Homo sapiens: one gene and its partners. The protein of the gene in region 3 purifies or fractionates together with the protein of the main gene of each other region. This does not show direct contact. Each region holds a gene or a part of one and is shown on either strand. Other genes may lie near its edges.

Evidence for each region.
Region 1: the proteins of ALDH16A1 (region 3) and MARF1 purify together in Homo sapiens (affinity purification with mass spectrometry; one large-scale study listed by BioGRID and IntAct). This does not show direct contact.
Region 2: the proteins of ALDH16A1 (region 3) and HACD3 fractionate together in Homo sapiens (co-fractionation; one large-scale study listed by BioGRID). This does not show direct contact.
Region 4: the proteins of ALDH16A1 (region 3) and PRR14L purify together in Homo sapiens (affinity purification with mass spectrometry; one large-scale study listed by BioGRID and IntAct). This does not show direct contact.

Annotation. Positions count from the first base shown.
Region 1 is NC_000016.10:15,632,239-15,636,654, reverse strand, and holds part of MARF1 (meiosis regulator and mRNA stability factor 1), read left to right. Parts: intron 1-312; coding exon 313-999; exon of another isoform or gene 1,000-1,149; intron 1,150-1,723; coding exon 1,724-1,898; intron 1,899-2,395; exon of another isoform or gene 2,396-2,645; intron 2,646-2,811; coding exon 2,812-3,038; intron 3,039-4,416.
Region 2 is NC_000015.10:65,554,463-65,558,878, forward strand, and holds part of HACD3 (very-long-chain (3R)-3-hydroxyacyl-CoA dehydratase 3), read left to right. Parts: intron 1-424; coding exon 425-498; intron 499-2,276; coding exon 2,277-2,441; intron 2,442-4,217; coding exon 4,218-4,269; intron 4,270-4,416. UniProt on the Homo sapiens protein: Catalyzes the third of the four reactions of the long-chain fatty acids elongation cycle. This endoplasmic reticulum-bound enzymatic process, allows the addition of two carbons to the chain of long- and very long-chain fatty acids/VLCFAs per cycle.
Region 3 is NC_000019.10:49,455,484-49,460,817, forward strand, and holds part of ALDH16A1 (aldehyde dehydrogenase family 16 member A1), read left to right. Parts: intron 1-1,332; exon of another isoform or gene 1,333-1,440; coding exon of another isoform or gene 1,441-1,443; intron 1,444-3,002; coding exon 3,003-3,105; intron 3,106-3,476; coding exon 3,477-3,603; intron 3,604-4,186; coding exon 4,187-4,365; intron 4,366-5,334.
Region 4 is NC_000022.11:31,732,217-31,736,632, reverse strand, and holds part of PRR14L (protein PRR14L), read left to right. Parts: intron 1-4,416.

The DNA.
Region 1 (4,416 bases), on a different chromosome or scaffold from region 3:
GAAATTACCAAAAGGAAGTTACTGAGGCATGGTGGCTGCTAAAGATGTAAACAGGCCCTCCCACCCCAGTCTGTTTCAATTCAGGAAGAATGTAGTCTTAATTTTAGTTGTGTGTTCCAGTGTTCATGTCCTGCAGACCTCTCTGAAGAATGTTCCTGGTTTTAACTAGCTGTGATTCCATTTTGTTCAGTTATGATTTAGTGATGTAACAGAATTGAACACTATTTCTGTTTGTGCATGCAGTAAGATATGAGTAACCAAAAAACCACGGACCTCATAAAATTAATTTATGTTCTGATTTTCTTTTCTCAGAAAGAGTACATGGAGAACAAGAAAGTTGCTGTGGAACTAAAGGATGTACCATCACCCCTTCATGCTGGCTCTAAGCTTTTTCCAGCAGTCCCACTTCCTGATATTCGTTCTCTTCAGCAGCCTAAAATACAGCTTTCTTCTGTCCCCAAAGTAAGCTGCTGTGCTCATTGCCCTAATGAACCCTCCACTTCGCCAATGCGTTTTGGTGGTGGTGGTGGCGGTAGCGGAGGTACCAGTAGCTTGATTCACCCGGGCGCACTGTTAGACTCGCAAAGCACCAGGACAATCACGTGTCAGGTAGGGTCAGGGTTTGCTTTCCAGTCTGCATCTTCACTCCAGAATGCCTCAGCTAGGAACAATTTGGCAGGCATTGCAAGTGACTTTCCCAGCATGTGTCTAGAGAGTAACCTGTCTTCCTGCAAACACCTGCCCTGTTGTGGAAAACTCCACTTCCAGTCATGTCATGGTAATGTGCACAAGCTGCATCAGTTTCCGAGTCTGCAGGGCTGCACCTCCGCTGGCTATTTCCCCTGTTCTGATTTCACAAGCGGGGCTCCAGGGCATTTGGAAGAGCACATTTCACAGTCGGAGCTAACGCCTCACTTGTGCACCAACTCTTTGCACCTTAATGTGGTACCTCCGGTTTGTTTAAAGGGCTCACTTTACTGCGAAGACTGTCTAAACAAGGTTCGTATCTTTTTATTTCTTAAGTTGGGTGCAGCTGAGGATTGAGGAATGACTTTTGAAGTGGATTTATCTTGAAAAGTATTATACATGGGGTTGAAGATTCTCCCATGGTATAGGGGAATCTCCCCATCAGCATAATTTTTGCTGGTTCTGAAAGAAACAAAGGGTAAGATGGGAGATCATTCAAAAAAGTAGAGAGTCATTATTTTTGTAGTTTATACTTTTAGAGCCTCTTGTTGCAAACAAGAGGTTGGCAAAGCCTTCGTGTTCTATGTTTAAAGGCTAAAGCACGATGGATTTTTTATAACTTACATTCAGCTTACACATGGGCCCATTCATGTAAGGTAGATAACTGCATGTTGTCTTTTTGCAATAATGTGGGAAACCTGAAGCTTGGCCTCAGTCACATTGGTGTTCAAGTGAGACTTTGCTACCCTTTATGTAAAATATGTGTGAGGTCTTCGTTGCAGCAGACTCATGCCCCAGAATGTAAAGATCTGACCACGTGAATATCTTTCTTGATCATGTCAAGTCACTTCTGGAAATGAATTTATGAACTGATAGCTAATGGTTCTTGGAAAGATTATTTGAAAGTCCTTTTTATTAGAGGCTAGCAAGTGGAAAGGTAAAACACTTAGAGTGTATTTTCAGTTGTTGTATATAACTCCAGCTTCTGAAATGATGTATCTGACACCTCCTCCTTTTTAAAAAAAATTTAAAACAGCCAGCAAGAAATAGCATAATCGATGCGGCTAAAGTCTGGCCAAATATACCACCTCCAAATACTCAACCTGCACCTCTTGCTGTCCCTCTGTGTAATGGCTGTGGAACCAAAGGAACAGGGAAGGAGACCACGTTGTTATTGGCGACCAGTCTAGGCAAAGCTGCTTCAAAATTTGGTAAATGACAGTATGGCATAAAATGTGCATATTTAAATAGCTTTCAATATCTCATACTAACATTGCATTTAATCACCTTTGAAGGATTCCTTATGGTTCTAAAGCTACTGTGTATGTGAGTCTCCAATTCCATATCTTGGTAGAAATCTTTTTATTATTATGGACCAGGAAGTCATTTGCCCTTTATGTTGGGCCGAGGCTATACACAGAAGCTGTGTATAGAAAAATTGGTAGTATATCAGGAGAAATAAAAGTGCTGGAAAAGACTTGGTGTCACCTTAGGTTGGAAATCACACTTGTTGATGGTATACTCCCTAGAAGTGCTTAGAACAATTTACTAATGGCTGATTAAAAACAGTATTTGAAAACCAAAGAGTTCTCAGTTAAAATAATTTCCCTAAAAAGTAGTTAATGCGACGTTTTGAAAACATTTTTAAAATATTAAATCAGATGTTAATGCAGCGTTAACTCAAAATCAACGACAGTAACAGCTTCACCCTTTGTCAGCTCCTCAGTGTTGGTTACTACCAAGTAGGTAGATAAGTGTGGGCTAAGCTTGAAAGTCGGGTCCTGGAGCTGCAGTATCCGGTCAGTTAGTGTGCTTGTGTTCAGAGAAGCATCACTGCTTAATGTCAGAGTGGCTCATGCTTGGAGGTGGATTTATTGTGGGCTTAAAGTTACTTGACTTTTAGATTTGTCTTCTCCTGAAAAACAGAAATAATCTCTTAGAGTGATACTTTTTGACAGCTTGATTGCTTATTAGGTCAACCAGTGAGGTTGGTAGCCTTAAAACTTGGCATTCATTAATAATTTAGTTTTTCTACCACTGAGAATGATAGGTAGTTTATTATCTTATTGTAACTTGCCATTTATTTTCCACTACAAGTAATTGAAAATGTTAACATTTCTTAAGGGTCACCAGAAGTTGCAGTAGCTGGACAGGTGCTAGAAAACTTACCCCCCATTGGAGTTTTTTGGGATATTGAAAACTGCTCCGTTCCCTCTGGCCGGTCAGCAACTGCTGTTGTGCAAAGAATCCGTGAGAAGTTTTTTAAAGGCCACAGAGAAGCAGAATTCATCTGTGTATGTGACATCAGTAAAGAAAACAAGGAAGTTATTCAAGAGCTGAATAATTGCCAGGTAAAAAAAAAAAATTTAATAATTTTAATCTACAGTAGAGGAATAAGCAGATATTTGTTTGTTTGTTTGTTTTGAGACAGAGTCTAAGTGTCACCCAGGCTGGAGTGCAGTGACGCATTCATGGCTCCCTGCAGCCTCGAACCCTGGGACCCCAGTGATCCTCCCACCTCAGCCTCCCAACTAGCCAGGATCACAGATGCACGCCATCATGCTCGGCTCATTTTTTATTTTTTGTAGAGACGAGGTCTCCCTATGTTCCAACCAGAAACAGAAACTAAGAACCCATGACTGTATTCTGTCCCTTGGACACCCCTGGATGGCTTTCAGGATCCAGGGTTAGGTGGTGGAGGCTTGTCTCAAACTCCTGGGATCAAGCAGTCCTCTTGCCTTGGCCTCTAAAAGTGCTGTACGTGTGTGTGTGTGTGTGTGTGTGTGTGTGTGGTGTTTTTTTTTTTTTTAGAATTCTGATTGAAAATTTGTTTAATGATATTGCATTTGTGCCAAGTTTTCAAATAAAATAAATTAGCAAAAGATCACTTCCAAAGTACTAGAAATAATTTAATCATTCTTTCAGTTATGCTCCCTAATTTATATTTTAGTTCTATACTGGTATAATGGTTATATATGTATTATTTCCTTTGATTTTCATTACTGCTCTTTGAACCAGGCACGTAGAATATATAATTCACAATTTACAAATTAAACTAAGGCCCTGAGAGGTGAAGAAACTTGTTTAAGATCACTTGGCCAGGAAGAGCAAAGATCCAAATCTAGATTTGTCTGACCCCCAGAGTCTGCTTTTAAGCTGAAACTAGAATTTGGGTCTTTTGACTCTTAGATAATTAATTATATTGATAGTCCATATTGCTTGTCTAAAATGATATACCCATGTTCTTTACAAAAACCAGCAAGTTATTATTGTGTATTGCAGGTGCCTGAGGCAACTTTCTCAAAATAAACCTTTCCTTCCTTTGGGGACTTATATGCGAGCCTGATAGTTTTAACAGAAATAAATGCATTTTAGCTCCCTTAGGGGATATCCTCCCTCCTCTCTCTACCACCTCACCCCAGATCCTGAAAGCCATCCAGGGGTGTCCAAGGGAGAGAATACAATCATGGATTCTCAGTTTCTGTTTCTGGTTGGGCTAGTAAAGCACCTTCCTTATCTCTCTTTTCTGCTTATTAGTAGGGACGGAAACTAAAAACTATGGCTTCCAGCTGCTAAAAGCCCAAAACAAAACAAAACAGAAAACAACAACAAAAGGCAGATTGCACAAGCTTGCATGGGTAGCATGGACAGTTGACATAAAACACAGCCTTAAATCTTATTTTAGTCATTTGTCTGATCTTTACCACCTCCAAATTGTTGGCAGAAGCT
Region 2 (4,416 bases), on a different chromosome or scaffold from region 3:
GCCTTTTGGCTACAATCAAGTATGATATTCGTGCCAGGTACAGTGGCTCATGTCTGTAATCCCAGCACTTTGGGAGGCTGAGGCGGGTGGATCACAAGGTCAGGAGATCGAGACCATCCTGGTTAACACGGTGAAACCCCGTCTCTACTAAAAATAAAAAAAATTATCTGGGCATGGTGGCGGGAGCCTGTAGTCCCAGCTACTCGGGAGGCTGAGGCAGGAGAATGGCATGAACCCGGGAGGCGGAGCTTGCAGTGAGCCGAGATCATGCCACTGCACTCCAGCCTGGGCAACAGAGCAAGACTCTGTCTCAAAAAAAAAAAAGTGTAATATTCGCATACTTGGGAAAGAACTGCACCAAGCTGGCTTTTGGATGGCCTTGCTCTGCTCAAGTTTGCAGTAACCCACATTTCTTTCTTTATAGCTCAAGGACATGGTGCCAAAGGAGACAATGTCTATGAATTTCACCTGGAGTTCTTAGACCTTGTGAAACCAGAGGTATGTTCTTTCCTTTCTCACTTCCCTTCCCATTTTAGGAAATGAATACCAGTAGTTTAGTGAAATGGGGAGCAGGGTTTGTGGAGAGAAGAAGATAAAAACCAAAGGGGAATAATAGAGTTCTTTTATTTGGAACAGAGCCCAGGTTTTAGCTGCAGAGGAATGGGAAAGTCAGAGACCCCAAGTTGAGTCAGGGCCCTGCCATTTATTAGCAGTGTGATCTTGAACAAGTCTCTTAACTTCTTCGAGTTCTGGTGTTCTCATGTGTTAAATGAAGGTCTGGACTAAGTGATCCTTCCAGCTCTGATATTCTCTGGTTTTAGTGATGGCAGAGGAATATGGCACCCATTGAGAACAGAGTTACATAGAGTGGTTGAAGCCCCCACCAGGGGTTACTTTCATGTGACTTTGCCACAGTTGCAGGTGAGAAAAATAGAAATCAGAAAGGGTGAAGGCAGCTGGCCTTCAGAAAGAATGCTGCAGATATCATCAAAACTTCCCTTCCCTTAGAGCCTGAGGAAGCTTCTCTCATAAGCAGGGAGAGAATCCAATAGATGGGGTATTTTGGCTTCTGGAATTACACTTAGCTCTGGTGGCTTGAGCTTCTTGATTTCCGTGCGCAGGTGCTCAGTTGTTTTGAGAAAGCATGAATAATAACCAGTGGTACAGTGGGCAGAGAACCTGTCATGGAGCTTCCTTTGGAGAAAAGGGACAGGACATGTAGACAAACAATGAGCTGGAATGGCCTATAAGAATTTGAGTTTAGTTGGGAAGACTCCCCAAATTGACCCCTGTGAAAAAATCTGTAACTGATCCAATACAGTTCTGATCTTGATGCAGGTGTTTCTAAAACCGGGGTCTGCTGAGCCAGGACAGTCATTTTCATGGGAGGAAAATTTATAAGCTGAGGGTAATTGGATGCAGTACCCTTGAGAGGGTGATTGGACATAGTACCTTGCATGATGTGGCTGTGGCAGGAGGTTCATGCTAGTTCCCTCCAGCCTAACCAGGAACTATTTGCCTTTCTTATCCTGATATCCTCCTGTATCATTCACTGGGGGAATCAGAGAAGGACATTATGTCCTTACCAGTTCTCCATGCCAGCCGTTGGTCTAGATCAACCTTTTTGGCACCAGGGACCAATTTTGTGGAAGGCACTTTTTCCACAGATGGTGGAATGGGGATGGTTTCAGGGTGATTCAAATGCATTACATTTGTTGTGCACTTTATTTCTGTTATTATTACATTGTAATATATAATGAATACAACTCACCATAATGTAGAATCAGTGAGAGCCCTGAGCTTGTTTTCTTGCAACTAGACAGTCCCATCTGGGGGTGATGGGAGACAGTGACAGATCATCAGGCATTATAGTCTCATAAAGAGTGAGCAACCTAGATTCCTTGCATGCACAATTCACAATAGAGTTCACGCTCCTATGTGAATCTTGTGCCAATGCTGATCTGACAGGAGGCAGGGCTTAGGCAGTAATGCAAGTGATGGAGAGCGAGTCTAAATATAGGTGAAGTTTCACTCACTTGCCCACCACTCAGCTCCTCCTGTGTGGCCCGATTCCCAACAGGCCATGGACCAGTATCAGTCCATGGCCCAGGAGTTGGAGACCCCTGGTCTAGATGTTCCCTTTGCATCAGGACTTGCAGGACCAGAGAAAGAAGGAGAATAAATATATCCTGCAGCTTCTATGTACGGCGCCCCTGGCATGGTGCTGCTTCAGGGAACAGAAGAGGGCATTCTCACATTTTCACTTTCTCTCCTAGCCTGTTTACAAACTGACCCAGAGGCAGGTAAACATTACAGTACAGAAGAAAGTGAGTCAGTGGTGGGAGAGACTCACAAAGCAGGAAAAGCGACCACTGTTTTTGGCTCCTGACTTTGATCGTTGGCTGGATGAATCTGATGCGGAAATGGAGCTCAGAGCTAAGGTTAGTAAGGATCCTAGGATCTAGCCATTGAGGACAAATCATGGGGAACCCACGTTATTCAGGCCACTTCAGATACCTCTCGGTCTGAAAGAATAGCTACAAAGTTACAAATTCATTTAAAGACCTGGTGATGTGATTTTCAAGAAGTATTGGCTATGTATTTTATAGACTTTCCTTCGGTTGAAATCTGTCTGATGTTTCTCTTACAACTAGACTAAGGTGATAGATGTTGAGGAGAAGACCACTGAAGTAAAGTGCAATTCTTATCACATCATATCAAGAGTACATACGGCCGGGCACGGTGGCTCACGCCTGTAATCCCAGCACTTTGGGAGGCCAAGGTGCGTGGATCACGAGGTCAGGAGATAGAGACCATCCTGGCTAGCACAGTGAAACCCTGTCTCTACTAAAAATACAAAAAATTAGCCGGGCGTGGTGGTGCATGCCTGTAGTCGGAGCTGCTCAGGAGGCTGAGGCAGGAGAATGGCGTGAACTCGGGAGGCGGGGCTTGCCGTGAGCCGAGATCACGCCACTGCACTCCAGCCTGGGCAACAGAGCGAGAGTCTCAAAAAAAAAAAAAAAAAGTACATACTGTCAACGTGACACATCACTGTTGATATTAACCATGGGTTAGCTGGCTTGAGGTGACGCTTATCAGGTTTCTCTACCATAAGGTTATTTTCCTCTTGGCTCTCCTTGGAAGGAAGTCACTATGTGTAGCCTACATTTAAGGAGCAGGGAGTTATGCTTCCTGTCCTTTAGATGGAGGGAGTATCTACATAATTTATTTGGAATTCTTCTGCATAGGAGAATAATTATGCATGTCTATTGTCTCCCATTTATTTATTCAATCATTTATATCATGTGAGTACATGGGTATTTATTTTATACTTTGAGTTATAATCTAATATTATTTATTTTGTTGCTCAAATTCTTCCAGCTTTGGCACTAACTGGCCTTTGGTTATGTCCTCATCCTGCCCATCTTTCATTTGGCTTTTGTATCTTTTTGAGAAAGCGCCATCATTATGGGACTGTTTTTTTTTTTTTTTTTGAGCACTTCCTTACTTTCTGGCAGTATAAGCTGCTCCAGGCTTATCTTGCATGTATGTTTCCTGCTCCAGCCCTGGAACAGCCATTTCTTCAAGCATCTCTGTTCTTATTGTGGAATAGCATTGGAAACCAAGATCTGGGTGCCGGGTATGCTCATTGCTACCAGGTTGCCATTGCCTTTAAGTTCTCTTCACTGACAGAACAAGAAAATATATGTTTGGATAGTAACCCATGCATACACATACACCTGTAAATATTTCTGTATGGATCCATCTGTATCTCTGTTAAGCTAAACGTGAGTTCATAGTGATGTTGGAAACATGATCTTAGCTTCTGGAAAAATTATACTAAAATTCTAGAAGTCTTGAAAAATAAAATAGCAGTCTACCTCCTGCCTTAAACTTCTGTTTTATTTCTCTGACTGCGACAGATCTTCTGGATGTCCTTTCCAGCTTTAAGATTCCAAGGTCACTTGTCAGTTTGGAAGCCAGCTCACTGGGTTAATTTTGTGAACAATGGATGGGCACCTGTGATGCTAATGCTGCTTAGTAAGCAGGAGTCAGGCGTTTGGCCCTATGACCTAGAATATTCTCCCAATGATGCACTGACCCCAACTGGAGGAGTTGGCTTTGAGGGAGTCAGATTACTCAGCCAGCATATGGACTTTTGCAAGCATCTGGGAATTCTAACTTGTGTTCTTGGAAAACTTTTGTCTAAATTCTAGGAAGAAGAGCGCCTAAATAAACTCCGACTGGAAAGCGAAGGCTCTCCTGAAAGTAAGTTGTGCTGCTGCCATGGTAGTTACCAGTTAACTTGTGCTAGTGTTGGAAGTATGGATAATTGTGATGTGGCAGGAGAGCTAATGATTTCATCCCGGTGAGCTGTGTGGGTGAGTTTATGAAAAAGCTTTTAGGTCCAGTGCT
Region 3 (5,334 bases):
GTAGTCCCAGCTACCCGGGAGGCTGAGGTGGGAGGATCACCTGAGCCTGGGAGGTGCAGTGATCATACCACTGAACTCCAGCCTGGGTGACAGAATAAGACCCTGTCCCCCCTGAAAAAAAAAGAAGTTGAGGCCAGGCAAGTGGCTCACACCTGTAATCCCAGCAGTTTGGGAGACCGAGGCAGGAGGATCACTCGCACCTAGGAGTTTGAGACCAGCCTGGGCAACATGGTGAGGCCCTATCTCTATTAATATAAAAATAAAACATAAAAAGTGAAGTTGAGACTTGGACTTGAGTCCTTGCATTTCAGACCCGTGGTCTTGCCTACACCAGCAAAGTTCTCAACCGTACAGTCTCTGGGCCAGACTCAACCAACAAACATGTTTTCTTTGGCGTGAACTTTATTTTTTTTTTATGTGAAATGCTGGACAATTGATTCCATGTAAACATCCGGGAGGTCCTCTTGAAAATAAAATTCCAAAATGTGTCAACATTTGGCTCAACTTCCCTGACAAAAGTCATCTGGGACCAATAGCTCCTGTCTTTTCCATGAATCGTTAAGCTCCTCTTCTCATCCAGGCCCTCTTCTCAGGCCTCCTGGAACCCTCTGGACATTCTTTTGGAATTTTGTTTTTCTTTTGGGGGGAAGCTTTCCAACTTGCACAGAATAATTAGCATTTATTTTGAACTCCTGTTTACCCATCACTGTGCCTCAACCATCATCAACATTTATCCCAGCGCTGTTTCCTTCTGTATTTTCTTTGGAGTAATTTAAACAAATCCTGGATGTCACAGTATTTTCCTATAAATATTTGAATCCTTTCTTCTAACAGATAAGGGCTCATTTTGTTACAAAACTACCATGGTCTGTTACCACACTTAACATTAAGTCATTCTTTTTGTTTTTTGTTTGTTTGTTTGAGACAGGATCTTACTCTGTCGCCCAGGCTAGCATTCAGTAGCGTTCATAGCTCACTGCAGCCTGAAACTCCTGGACCCAAGCAATCCTCCCACCCCAGCCTCCTGACTAGCTGAGACTACAAGTGTGCATCATCATGACTGGCAAATTTTTTACTTTTATTTTTGTAGAGATGGGGTCTTGCTGTGTAGGTCCAGACTAGTCTCAAACTCCTCAGCTCAAGCAATCCTCCCGTCTCAGCGTGGGAAAGTGCAGGGATTACAGATGTGAGCTACCATGCCCGGCCAACAATCATTCTTTAATGTCATCTGATGCCCAGTTCATGTTCAAATATCCCTGACTTTCTCACAGATGTCTCTCTCCCTGTGGGCGTTTGAGTTTGGAACTTCTAAGTAACTTTTTTGCTTTAAAGAGAAAGGAGAAGCCAGGCACAGTGGCTCATGCTTGTAATCCCAGCACTTTGGGAGGCCGAGGCGAGTGGATCACCTGAGGCCAGGAGTTCGAGACCAGCCTGGCCAACATGGTAAAAACCCATCTCTACTAGAAATATATAAATTAGCTGGGCATGGTGGCGGCCGCCTGTAATCCCAGCTACTTGGGAGGCTGAGGTAGGAGAATCACGTGAACCCAGGAGGCGGAGGTTGCAGTGAGCTGAGATCGCACCATTGCACTCCAGCCTGGGAGACAAGAGCAAGACTCCATCTCAAAAAAAAAAAAGAAAGAAGGGCCAGTAAGAGAAAAATCAGGAATATGTGACATCAGAGATGCTAGGGGAGTCTGTAGAAGGAGCAAGTGAGCAGTGTGCTTTGGATTTAGCATCAGGGAAGACGTGACCAGGATGAGAAAGAAATATGGAGGAGAAGTCCGGGCGCAGTGGCTCACGCCTGTAATCTCAGCACTTTGGGAGGCCGAGGCGGGCGGATCACGAGGTCAGGAGATCAAGACCATCCTGGCTAACACAGTGAAACCCCATCTCTACTAAAAATACAAAAAAATTAGCCAGGCGTGGTGGCAGGCGCATGTAGTCCCAGCTACTCGGGAGCCTGAGGCAGGAGAATGGCGTGAATCCAGGAGGCGGACCTTGCAGTGAGCAGAGATCGCGCCACTGCACTCCAGCCTGGGTGACAGAGCAAGACTCTGTCTCAAACAAAAAAAAAAAAAAGAAAGAAAGAAATATGGAGGAGATGTGGTGAGTGAGATGTGGTAAAAAAATTTTTTTTCTTTGAGACAGAGCCTTGCTCTGTTACTCAGGCTGGAGTGCAGTGGCGTGATCTTGGCTTACTACAGCCTCTACCTCCTGGGCTCAAGTGATCCTCCCACCTCAGACTCCCAGGTAGCTGGGACTACAGGCACTCACCACCACACCCGGCTAACTTTTTGTATTTTTTGTAGAGATGAGCTTTCACCATGTTGCCCAGGCTGGTCTTGAATGCCTAGGCTCAGACCACCTCGGCCTCCCAAAGTGGACTCCAAATAGGTGCCACTGTTGTGGCACCAGCCCAAGGACTCAGTTGAGACCCTAATTGAATGAATTAAAGATGTTGACACATCCATAATCCCAGCACTTTGGGAGGCCAAGGCGTGCAGATCACTTGAGGTCAGGAGTTCAAGACCAGCCTGACCAACATGGTGAAACCCCGTCTCTACTAAAAATACAAAAACAAAACTAGCCGCATGTGGTGGCGGGCGCCTGTAGTCCCAGCTACTCAGGAGATTGAGGCGGGAGAATAGCGTGAACCCAGGAGGCGGAGCTTGCAGTGAGCTGAGATCATGCCACTGCACTCCAGCCTGGGTGACAGAGCAAGACTCAGTCTCAAAAAAAAAAAATGAAAAAATGTTCTAGAACTAGAGTGGTGATGGTTACACAACACTGTAAATGCACAGAATGCCACTAAACTGCTGAACTATACACTTTGAAATGCTCTATTTTACCACAAACTTTTTTTTTAAAGCAATAGGAGGAAAAGAATTAGCTGATGGGGCAGAGGGAGACAGACGTCCCCTCCTAGAGGATTCTGGGTAGGGGTTGAACTGCCCCAGCTCCTCCCGAACCCCTTTCCAAACTGTCTCTACCTCCCCCAGGCCTGGCTGGACACCCAGGACCGGTGCTTGGGCCACTATGTGAATGGGAAGTGGTTAAAGCCTGAACACAGAAATTCAGTGCCTTGCCAGGATCCCATCACAGGTACGAGATGTCCCCCAGTCATTAGTGGAAGGGAGGTATCTGTGCCCTCTAGCCCTACCCACCAACACCCATTCCCCTTGCCTAGGGCCCTGAGGGCAGGAAACAGCTGGTGGTGGGAGATGGGCTGCGATGTCTGGTTCCTTCTGAAACCAGTCACCCTAATTATGGTTCCGGGTCTCTGTGGAGGCTTTGTGAGACTGCTGTCTGTTAAAATAGCTTCCTTGCCCTGGAGGTGATCATAGCCGTGACCCAGCAGAGAATGGGGACCAGCTTTACACTCTTGGGCTGATCCAGGCTCCGAAAATCTCAGCCCCCTCCAGATATGACATGGGCTACTCCTCCCATCTGAGTCCCCCCACTTTTCTCCCCAGGAGAGAACTTGGCCAGTTGCCTGCAGGCACAGGCCGAGGATGTGGCTGCAGCCGTGGAGGCAGCCAGGATGGCATTTAAGGGCTGGAGTGCGCACCCCGGCGTCGTCCGGGCCCAGCACCTGACCAGGTGATGCAGCTGAGGTGTGGACCCCGGGAGGCGGGGAACCCCAGCATCCACTCGAGACCATGGGAACAAAGGCTATTTCCCAAGATCCCACTGAATTAATTTGCAGCTAAGGCTCAGATTCCCAGTATGTGCTGGAGGCAGTCGTGGCTGAAACATGCATCCGTTGTCCACTATTCACTGGGACTAGAAGCCACAAAGCCTCTATTTCCCAGGACATTCTTGGAGTGCATTGGGGCTCAGTTCACTGGGGCTGGTGAAGCCCCTAAATCCATTTCCTAGCCGCTTGCGGGGAAGCTAGAGACAAAAATTCCATTTCCCAAAACGCAATTGAGGTTAGAAGCTAAGACTCAATTTCCCAAAAGCTTCAGGGATTTCCGGCGGCCAAGACCTTTACACAGCATCCTCAGGGTTTGTGTTTCCATGACTATAATTCTCATAAATCTTCACTGCCCTCTGCCCCAGGTAAATGGTGGGGATGCCTCAGGGGCTCATGGGGATTGTAGTCCAGGTATATAGGAGCAGCCCAGGACTCTGCAAGGCTGAGGGCCGTTGGAAAATGAGCACCCTCTTGCTTTCTCGACAGGCTGGCCGAGGTGATCCAGAAGCACCAGCGGCTGCTGTGGACCCTGGAATCCCTGGTGACTGGGCGGGCTGTTCGAGAGGTTCGAGACGGGGACGTCCAGCTGGCCCAGCAGCTGCTCCACTACCATGCAATCCAGGCATCCACCCAGGAGGAGGCACTGGCAGGCTGGGAGCCCATGGGTGAGACCCTGGAGTCCCTAGCCCTATCCTCCCACATGACTCAGCAGTGCTAGCTCCAGTCCCCTCATTCTTTTTCTTTTAGACAGAGTTTCGCTCTTGTCGCCCAGGCCGGAGTGCAGTGGCGCAATCTTGGCTCACTATAACCTCCGCCTCCCGGGTTCAAGTGATTCTCCTGCCTCAGCCTCCTGAGTAGCTGGAATTACAGGCACCCACCACCACACCTGGCTAATTGTTATATTTTTATTAGAGAAGAGGGGTCTCATCATGTTGGTCAGGCTGGTCTCAAACTCCTAACCTCAGATGATTCACCTGCCTTGGCATCCCAAAGTGCTGGGATTACAGGCATGAGCCACCGTGCCCGGTCCCCTCATTCTTTTTCTTTTGTTTTTGTTTTTGTTTTTTTCTTTTTCAGACAGGGTCTTTCTCTGTCACCCTGGCTGGAGTACAGTGGTGCAATTATAGCTCACTGATACCTCGACCTCCTGGGCTCAAAATCCTCCCACCTCAGCCTCCCAAGTAACTGGGACTACGACCATGCACCACCACACCTGACTAGTTTTTGTTTTTGTTTTTTTTTTTTTTGAGATGGAGTTTCGCTCTTTGTTGCCCAGGCTGGAGTGCAGTGGTGCGATCTCGGCTCACTGGAACCTCCGCCTCCCGTGTTCAAGTGATTCTCCTGCCTCAGCCTCCCGAGTAGCTGGGACTACAGGCATGCACCACCACGCCTGGCTAATTTTGTGTTTTTAGTGGAGATGGGGTTTTTCCATGTTGGTCAGGCTGGTCTCGAACTTCCCACCTCAGGTGATCCGCCCACCTCGACCTCCCAAAGTGCTGAGATTACAGGCGTGAGCCACCACACCCGGCCATTTTTTTTTTTTTTTCCTAATGTAGCCATGGGGTCTTGCCATGTGGCCCAGGCTGGACTTAAACACCTAGCCTCAAGGGATCCTCTTGCCTCATTTTTTTCTT
Region 4 (4,416 bases), on a different chromosome or scaffold from region 3:
GAGGGCTGTGGTTTGCCAACCCCTGCTCTAGACCCACCATCAGGTTCATATGTTCTTTGGGCTGCCTAGGCTAGGCTCCCATCCCGCTCTTGATACATATATCTTTTCTTTACACAGGATAAAGGGCAGTTAATTGTTGTTAGTGGGCTTCATACAGTGACTATGATTAGGAATGAATGAAGCATTAAGTAACATTTGAACATGATATTTGAGTTTACACTGTGATGCCTTTTTTTTTTTTTTTTTGAGACAGAGTTTCGCTCTTATTGCCCAGGCTGGAGTGCAATGGTGCGATCTCAGCTCACTGCAACCTCCACCTCCTGGGTTCAAGCAATTCTCCTGCTTCAGCCTCCCGAGTAGCTGGGATTACAGGCATGTGCCTCCACACCCGGCTAATTTTTTTTTTTTTTTTTTGAGATGGAGTCTCGTTCTATTGCCCAGGCTGGAGTGCAGTGGCGCAATCTCAGCTCACTGCAAGCTCCGCCTCCCAGGTTCACGCCATTCTCCTGCCTCAGCCTCCTGAGTAGCTGGGACTACAGGCATGCACCACCACACTTGGCTAATTTTTTTTTTTTTTTTTGAGATGGAGTCTTGCTCTGTTGCCCAGGCTGGAGTGCAGTGGCACAATCTCAGCTCACTGCAAGCTCCGCCTTCCGGGTTCACGCCATTCTCCTGCCTCAGCCTCCTGAGTAGCTGGGACTACAGGTGCCTGCCACCATGCCCGGCTAATTTTTTGGTATTTTTTAAATAGAGACAGGGTTTCACCATGTTGGTCAGGCTGGTCTCGAACTCCCGACCTCAGGTGATCCGCCCACCTCAGCTTCCCAAAGTGCTGGGATTACAGGGTGAGCCACTGCGCCCGGCCAATGCCCTATCTTTTAAAAATACAGTTAAATAGGTAAAAGGCTAAGGATCCCAGAGTTCCTATTGTGTTACTTCTTGATGTGGTGGGCTGAGTCTAACAAGAAAAGTTTCTTTTTTTTTTTTTTTCCAATTTAGGGACCTGCCACTTCAGGAGAGAAAAGTTTTTTAATGTAATGTTTGATATAAAAGCATGCGTAATACACATAAAGTATAATGAACACACACATGTATATATGTGTTTATATATGCATACATATACATACACATGCTTACATAACAATCAACCTAAGAACTAGATTACTATCTCAGTGTTCTTTTTTTTTTTTTTGAGACAGATTCTTGCTCTGTCACCCAGGCTGGAGTGCAATGGCACGATCTCAGTTCACTGCAAGCTCCACCTCCCAGGTTCATGCCATTCTCCTGCCTCAGCCTCCCTAGTAGCTGGGACTACAGGCGCCCGCCATGACGCCTGGCTAAATTTTTGTATTTTTTTAGTAGAGACGGGGTTTCACCGTGTTAGCCAGGATGGTCTCGATCTCCTGACTTCGTGATCCGCCCACCTCGGCCTCCCAAAGTGCTGGGATTACAGGCGCAAGCCACCGCGCCCCGCCACCCTGTTCTTTTTTAAAATCATTCCTTTTCTCCCTCCCAGCTCCACCAGTGTATATTCCATTTTGAATTGTATAAAGCAGAATGAAATTTAATTGATATAAATGTTAACATTTTGTACTCAGTTTCAAAAAGTGATCTCCACAATTGAAAAGAAACAGAAATACTTACGGGGAAAGGGGAAACGGAAGACCTGCAGGTTTTAGCAGGTCAATTAGAATTGACTTTGTTCCAGGAAAAGCCAATTTGCTCTTAATATCATTAAGGGAAATGTGTTATCTGGACTGAGAAGTGGTGGTCATGCTCTGTTGTGTGCTGGTTAGGCCACAGCTAGAGTATTATACTTTCCTGTTGTTGTCATGTGTGTGAGAGGTATAGAAAACCAGGAATGCATTCATGGATAAGTATTCACACTAATGACACAACCTGAAAATATGCATCTGGAGGCCAGGTCATTGGGTGTGTAACTTGTGAAAGAGAACAGTCAAGAGACGTGAGAGAAGCCTTCAGCAATTTAGAGGTCATTCAGCAGAAGTGGTCCTGTGGGGCACAGTTAGGCCAGTGGAAGATGTGGGGCAGCAGCAACAGCTCCTAATCACTCTCAGGTCACAGGACCCTTTGGAAATCTGAACACTGCAGACCTTTCAGAAAAGCAGACATACCACTTGCATACCATTTCAGATTTGCAAACCCCAGGCATCCCCTGATCTCAATTTATAAGAGCTCTTGCTATATTGACAAAATATCCCACAGTCAAAAGACAGCTGACAAATTGAGAGAACATATTTGCAATGTATATCAGAGATAAAGGGTCTATATCTGTAATACATGAAGAACTCTTGAATTGAGGAATGAAGAACCAAACCCAATAGAAAAATGATAAGACTTGGGCTAGGTGTGGTGGCTCACACCTGTAATCTCAGCACTTTGGGAGGCTGAGGCGGGAGGATGATGAGGTCAAGAGATTGAGACCATCCTGGCCAACATGGTGAAACCCCATCTTTACTAAAAATGCAGAAATCAGCTGGGTATGGTGGTGCATGCCTTTAGTCCCAGCTATTCGGGAGGATGAGGCAGGAGAATTGCTTGAAACTGGGAGGCAGAGGTTGTAGTGAGCCGAGATTGTGCCACTGCACTCCAGCCTGGCGACAGAGTGAGACTCCCTTTCAAAAAAAGAAAAAGAAAAAAATGGGAAGACTTGATAATGAACTGTGTGTGTGTGTGTTTGTGTGGTGTATGTGTGTGTGTGTGTGTGGTGGTGGTGGTTAAACATAAGAGATGGTCAGCCTCGTGTAATTAGAGAAATGCAAAGTTAACCAGAGATACCACTTTTTTCCCTTTGATTTAAGGGTGTCGCTTTTTGACTATCAGATGGGTGAAAATGAAAATGTATGACAACGTATCTGGTTCAAGCAAGGCTATGAGGAAACAGACATTCTAATACATTGCTGGTGGGAATGCAAACTGATACAACCTTTCTGAGGAGCAGTTTGGCAACATTTAACAAAACTATTGGTGCCTCGACCTGTTCACCGAACACTTTAAGGAAACCTGCCTTAAAAGATAGACTTCTAGGCCTGTAATCCTAGCGCTTCGGGGGGCCGAGGCGGGTGGATCACCTGAGATCAGGAGTTCGAGACCAGCCTGGGCAACATGGTGAAAGCCTGTCTCTACTAAAAATACAGAAATCAGCTGGGCGCAGTGATGCATGGCCGTAATCCAAACTACTTGGGAGGCTGAGGCGGGAGAATCGCTTGAACCCCAAAGGCGGAGGTTGCAGTGAGCCAAGATGGCACCACTGCACTCCAGCCTGAGTGACAGAGCGAGACTCCGTCTCAAAAAAAAAAAAAAAAAAAAAAAACAGTGGCCAGGCGCGGTGGCTCACACCTGTGATCCCAGCACTTGCGAGTACGAAATGGGTGGATTGCCTGAGGTCTGAGGTCAGGAGTTCGAGACCAGCCTGGCCAACCTGGTGAAACCCCCATCGCTACTAAAAATACAAAAAATTAGCCGGGCGTGTGGCGGTCGCCTGTAATCCCAGCTACTCGGGAGGTTGAGGCAGGAGAATAGTTTGAACCCAGAAGAAAGGGTTGTAGTGAGCCGAGATTGCACCATTGTCACTCCAGCCTGGGTGACAAGAGCAAAACTCTGTCTCAAAAAAAAAAAAAAAAGATACACTTCTAGCAGTATAACAATACTTAATACACAAGGTTGTTCTTTTCAGCAGTTTTTAATTGCAAAATATTGGAAACAACCTAAATGCCCATATATAGGAGAGAGATTGAATACATTATGGCATAAGGTATTTACATACATGGAGTATTATCCAGCTATAATAACAAGGAAGATCTCTATATACTGATATGGAGTGATTTCCAGGTGTGTCAGGGGTCCCCAAAACCAGCAGGTTTTCAGAGTTGCTGAAACTCACAGGACTCAGCATTTAGTTGTTCTCACAGCTACAGTTTATTGCAGTGAAAGGATACAAAGAAAATCAGCAAAAGGGAAGCAGGCATAGACCAAAGTCCAGAGGAAATCCAGTGCAAGCTTCCAAGAGTCCTTTCCTAGTGGAGTCATACACACTTAACCTCCTTCAGGAACAAATTGTGACAACACGTATGAAATATTGTCTACCATGGAAGTTTGTTAGTGGGTCAGTGCTCAGGGATTTTACTGGGGACTGGTTGCATGGACATCCTCTGCCTGGCACATAGCAAAATTTCCAACTCCTAGAAGGAAAGCAGGTGTTTAGCATAAACCACGTTATAGTGTAGGCACAGTGAGACACTCCTGTTTAGGGAATGGTGGAAACTCCCAAACTCTAGTTCCCAGATGCTAGCTAAGGCTGACCCTGCAGGTAGACCTTTCTAAGGACAGCAGTCAGGCCTGCTCTGTTGACTCACTTCTGTAAACTAAGATATGCTGTTAAGTAAAAAATGCAAA